Linked DNA regions of Homo sapiens: region 1 is linked to region 2. The links come from fine-mapping of genetic effects on gene expression. A gene starts in region 2. The other region holds a variant in brackets. All regions are shown on one strand. Distances are between the middles of the regions.

What was found. PIP is the estimated chance that this variant, and not a neighbour inherited with it, causes the effect. A credible set is the group of variants that fine-mapping cannot tell apart.
Region 1: its variant is the best candidate, but not a certain one, in a credible set for the expression of RABIF in sun-exposed skin (GTEx, PIP 0.55).

The regions. Positions count from the first base shown.
Region 1 is chr1:202,936,104-202,939,134 of GRCh38, reverse strand. No RefSeq gene overlaps it. Among named protein-coding and RNA genes, the nearest start is that of KLHL12, 10 kb to the right of the region's middle. The variant T/A (reference allele first, on the strand shown) is at 1,612.
Region 2 is chr1:202,888,082-202,890,581 of GRCh38, reverse strand. It overlaps RABIF (RAB interacting factor), which reads left to right and starts at 1,433. Exons shown (of 2, transcript NM_002871.5): 1 at 1,433-1,609. The coding sequence starts at 1,484. RefSeq lists an enhancer at 1,398-1,667 and a silencer at 1,738-2,027.

The DNA of each region.
Region 1 (3,031 bases), 48 kb before region 2:
TGGTGAAAATGAATTACAGTGACAAGCAACAACATGGTTGAGCCTCAGAAATAAGATCGGCAGGAAGGGAGGGAAGCAACAGAATACATTTGCATAATTGCATGTATGTAAAATTAAGAAAATTGCTAAATTAATGATAGGTTTAAGGATACAAACATGGTAAAAACTTTAAAGAGGGAATGTTAATTTAGAATAATGTTTACCTCTGAAGGACTAAGAATCTTTAAAGTTTGTTATTTTAAGTTAGGTGGTGAGCACCTACGTGATCCTTTTGCCTAAGATCATGTGATACTCACTGCCTTTATGCAATGAGTGTTTTATATGTTTAATCCAAAACCATTTTAAGTCTTAAAAAATGCTTAAGGAACTGTTGGCAGAAGTCACAAACTGATGACCTGTACATCAAAAACATCCGTAGACATGTTTGGCCTTGCACAGTGAGAGCAATCAACTGCTACTCAAAAGCAGCTATGTATGTCCTTTATAGAAGGCTGGTGCACTCCAGTTCATCATGGTCCCTACCTAGGGTGATGGTCTCAGTGCAGTCATCTGCTGGCCTCTGCAGGCATCTCGGTTTGCAGCCGCTAGTATAAGAAATGGAAGGAAACCTAGGGATCATATCTGATCCAACTCCATTTTCTAGATAAGGAAATGAGATCCACAGCTGTTGAGAAGGCCTAGTGTGTGGGGGAGGATTGCTTGAGTCCAGGAGTTGGAGGCTGCAGTGAGCTATGATCACACCACTGCACTCCAGTCTGGGTGACAGAGCAAGAGCCTATCTCTTAAAAAAATAAAATAAAATAAAAAACAACCTAATGTGTGTTTCTTCATTTCTCCGTACTAGACAAGATCAGGGAAAGATGATCTAAGAGATAACATTATTGGGCACCTATTTGGTACTTTTGGTATGTCATTTTATATCGTTGACTCTGTGGAATACATAGTAAATGTAGTTAGAAAATAAGTTAGTCTTTCCCCTAGTTCTTCATTCACTAATAGGAAAGGGATAGAATCAGATTCTCAGTTTTCATTCTTGGCCTCCTTTTTTTTTTTTTTTTTTTTTTTTCTTTTTTAATTGAGACAGAATCTCACTCTGTTGCCCAGGCTGGAGTGCCATGGAGCAATCTCGGCTCACTGCAACCTCCGCCTCTGGGGTTCAAGCGATTCTCCTGCCTCAGCCTCCCAAGTAGCTGGGATTACAGGCACATGCCACCATGCCCAGCTAATTTTTGTATTTTTAGTAGAGATGGGGTTTCACCATGTTGGCCAGGGCTCGTCTTGAAGTCCTGACCTCAAGTGATCTGCCCGCCTCGGCCTTTCTTTAATCACAGTTCATCAGTGTTTGTCATTTACTTATTCCATAGTGCCTAGCACCTAACAGATTTGAGGACCACACTGGATTTCAGCTGCTATGAATCTGCTTATTGCCTCATCTAGAAAATGGATGGAGTTACATCAGGTGTGATCTCTAGGTTTCCTTCCAGTTCAATACTAGTGGCTGCAAATTCAGATCCCTCCAGGAAACTAATAATTTTTCCTAAGGTGATGGACAGGTTTGGAGCCAGTATCTGAATCCAGGTCATTCTCATTTAAAGCTCGTGTTCTAAAGAC[T/A]CAGATCACTTAAAAATTCCTTTTGCTCATGTTTTCAATATCTTCCCTTGCTTTTGTCAGAACTGCTAACTAGCAGCAAGTAACTATTACCTTCTTTCTCTAATTGCATACTTCTGGTTCATTCACTTACTTTCTAAATACTTGAGGACCTGTTATGTGCTAGGCATTACAGAACAAATGACAAAAACACTGATGAGCTTGGATTAAAGAAAGGCAAAGCATAAAAGCTAAGAATCTGATTTTACCCCTTTTCCTATCAGTAAATCAAAAAATAGGGGAGAGCCTAACTTATCTCTATAAGCCATCCATTTTCTTTTAAAAAAATATTTTCACAAAGGGCTAATATCCAGAATCTACAACGAACTCAAATGAATTTACAAGAAAAAAACAAACAACCCCATCAAAAAGTGGGCGAAGGATATGAACAGACACTTCTCAAAAGAAGACATTTATGCAGCCAAAAAACACATGAAAAAATGCTCACCATCACTGGCCATCAGAGAAATGCAAATCAAAACCACAATGAGATACCATCTCACACCAGTTAGAATGGCGATCATTAAAAAGTCAGGAAACAACAGGTGCTGGAGAGGATGTGGAGAAATTGGAACACTTTTACACTGTTGGTGGGACTGTAAACTAGTTCAACCATTGTGGAAGTCAGTGTGACGATTCCTCAGGGATCTAGAACTAGAAATACCATTTGACCCAGCCATCCCATTACTAGGTATATACCCAAAGGATTATAAATCATGCTGCTATAAAGACACATGCACACGTATGTTCATTGCGGCACTATTCACAATAGCAAAGACTTGGAACCAACCCAAATGTCCAACAATGATAGACTGGATTAAGAAAATGTGGCACATATACACCATGGAATACTATGCAGCCATAAAAAATGATGAGTTCATGTCCTTTGTAGGGACGTGGATGAAACTGGAAACCATCATTCTCAGCAAACTATCGCAAGGACAAAAAATCAAACACCGCATGTTCTCACTCATAGGTGGGAATTGAACAATGAGAACACATGGACACAGGAAGGGGAACATCACACTTCGGGGACTGTTGTGGGATGGGGGGAGGGGGGAGGGATAGCATTAGGAGATATGCCTAATGCTAAATGACGAGTTAATGGGTACAGCACACCAACATGGCACATGTACACATATGTAACAAACCTGCACATTGTGCACATGTACCCTAAAACTTAAAGTATAATAATAATAAAATTTAAAAATATATATTTTCCTATTTTTTTTAAATTTGGGGTGTGTGTGTGTGTCTGTGTGTGTGTTCTATAAGCCATCTGATATGGTTTGGCTGTGTCCTCACCCAAATCTCATCTTGCATTATAGTTCGCATAGTCCCAATGTGTCCTGGGATGGATCCAGCGGGAGGTAATTTAATCATG
Region 2 (2,500 bases):
CAGGGGAGGGTGAAGGACTGATGGCTCCTATGCTGTCTTCAGTGCTGACTAATGAGTTTCAGACCAACTTCACAAATAGTTCATACACTGAAGCCACAATGGTATGTTCTACAGAAAAATCAACACGTAAAACAGCTCCTTTTTCACTCTTCACAATCGTACACACTTTCATGTGCTCACATACATACACAGAGATACCCCTAATTTGGTGGTTCATCTTATTTTTTTAAGCTCCCATAACTGGCAACCAGCTACTTAGTTATCTAACCTGGGAAAACCAGCAGTTGCTTTGTGTCACCCCCATCACAATACAGACATCCAGCTAGTTTCTAAGTTCTGTACAATTTTAATTGTTTCAAGTCCATTCCCATATCTTTGTTCCCTCTGCTAGCTTCAGGGCCTTTCTGAGCTAGACTGATGAGGTAATAGCTACCTGATACCTTACCTCTACTCTTTTTCCTCTCTTCAATCTAGCCCCTCTATTTATTCATAGGTTATCTTTCTGAAGCACAGATAGGATCATTACAGTGCTTAACATACAGCAGACAGTAAATATCGAACAGTTATTTCTGGCCTAAAATTCCACAGATTCCCATTGTTCATGTTATTAATGTTAAATTCCTTAGCATGACATTAAAGCCATGGAGCTCTGGGCCCACTCTGCCTTACCTACCTCTACTACCACTTCTCCCCACGTGTAATGTGGGTCAGCCACAGTGGTCTACTAACCATTCCTAAATTTGTTCTCACCCTTGTTCATATATAATACTGTTCTGTCTGAAATAATCTTGCTTTCCTGACAATCCTAGTTAATTAAGAGCAGTGGCTTTAGAGTTGTGCTGCAACCTTTCTGATCTTTACCTTTCTCATTTTGTGCACAAGCGTGCCGACCCCGTAAGGAAACTGATGATTTAGTAAGTTTCTAAAGGCGCTTTGACACATTTTGCCGCATAGTAAATGGTCACAATGAGTAGAAGAGACCAGCAATTAAAGTTTCCACGCATCTTTTTCCAATACCGAAAAGATACATGCCCCTCTAAGTAGTTTCCTATAGAAGAAGCTAATGTGGCTAAAACTTGATGGGAAGTCCGACCCAGATTCCCTTCATATTGCCCCCAATAATGTCCCCATTTATTCAGGAGACTAAATTCAGATCCCAGAAAACTAAACAGTAAGGTCAACCTAATGATTTGTCTAGGTTTTAAGTGAAGCCCAGTGGCCAGGTGGGTATGGAGATGTGTCACTGGTGCCAAGAAGTGTCCCTGTCACAAAGCCTGCCGACACCTAGCCACTTAGGTTAGGCAATGAATGAAGGCGCTTGCGCAGTAGAGTCCAGAGCGGGGAAGCGGGCGCCTGCGCAGAGACATAGTGACCGTCCGCTCGCCGCCCCGCCTCTGCCAAGCCGCGCCAGCGCAGTGAATAACGAGCCAGCAGAGACAGCGTCTGCGCAGCCGTGGCTGAGGAGCCTGTGGCGGCAGCGGCGATGGAACCAGCGGAGCAGCCGAGCGAGTTAGTGTCAGCCGAGGGCCGAAACCGGAAGGCGGTGCTGTGCCAGCGTTGCGGCTCCCGGGTGCTGCAGCCAGGGACCGCTCTCTTCTCTCGCCGACAGGTAGGGAGGCAGGTTGGAGGCCGTTTACACCCACAGTCTCCCCCGACGAGCCGCCGCAGTCAGAATCTGAACCCCGGCTCTTCAATTTCCGGCAACCGCGCCCTCCTCGCGCGGCCTTAAGCCCCGCCCCTCGGGCCTCAGCTCGGCGAGGCTCCGCCCCTGGGGCCGCTGAAGGCTAGGGAGGGAACCGGGTCCCGCCCCGGCATCTTTTGCCGCGGGAACCCTTCCCTGGGCCACCCGGCCCAGCCAGCCCGGCCCTCTGCCCCCGGGGGGGCTTCGAGCGCGGGCCGTGCGCCCCGCCGCCGTCCAAGGCCGGTGCTCCGCGGGCGCGTGGAAGGGAGGCGCCCCATTCCGGCTCTCGGAGCTCCCGCCAGCTTGCAGGACCCGGCAGGTGCCTCTCGGCCGCCGCTCACCGCGGGTGTTGCTGGGTTCCTTTCCCACTTTAGACCTCACCCGCCAGTCCTGAATTCACCGTCTCATTTATGACGGGCACCTATCTGCTCCACAGAGGATCCCCAGGAACAACTGGTGTTGGGGACGCGGCAAAATAACCCTGGTAACCTACCCACTTTACCGAGGCACTGGAAGCCTGTGGTTTTCCAGATGAATCATATTTCAAGTGCAGTAGATCCCTGACGTCCTGGAAGTAAATTTCGAAGAAAAACTTTTTTTTTCCCTTCAGTTTAGGGATTTTAATACCCTTCCTACCACCATCATCGCAAGTGAGAAAGTTGAAAAAAAAATTTATTTCGGTAAACTGTGTTGAAGTGCAAATATAATGTCATTTCAACCATAGACACATCCTATCATTCAAAATTATTTCTAAAAATATGCAGATCATTTTATTATTTCACGTGCTTGAACAGATGGTGAAGTGTAATGTCTAGTAGA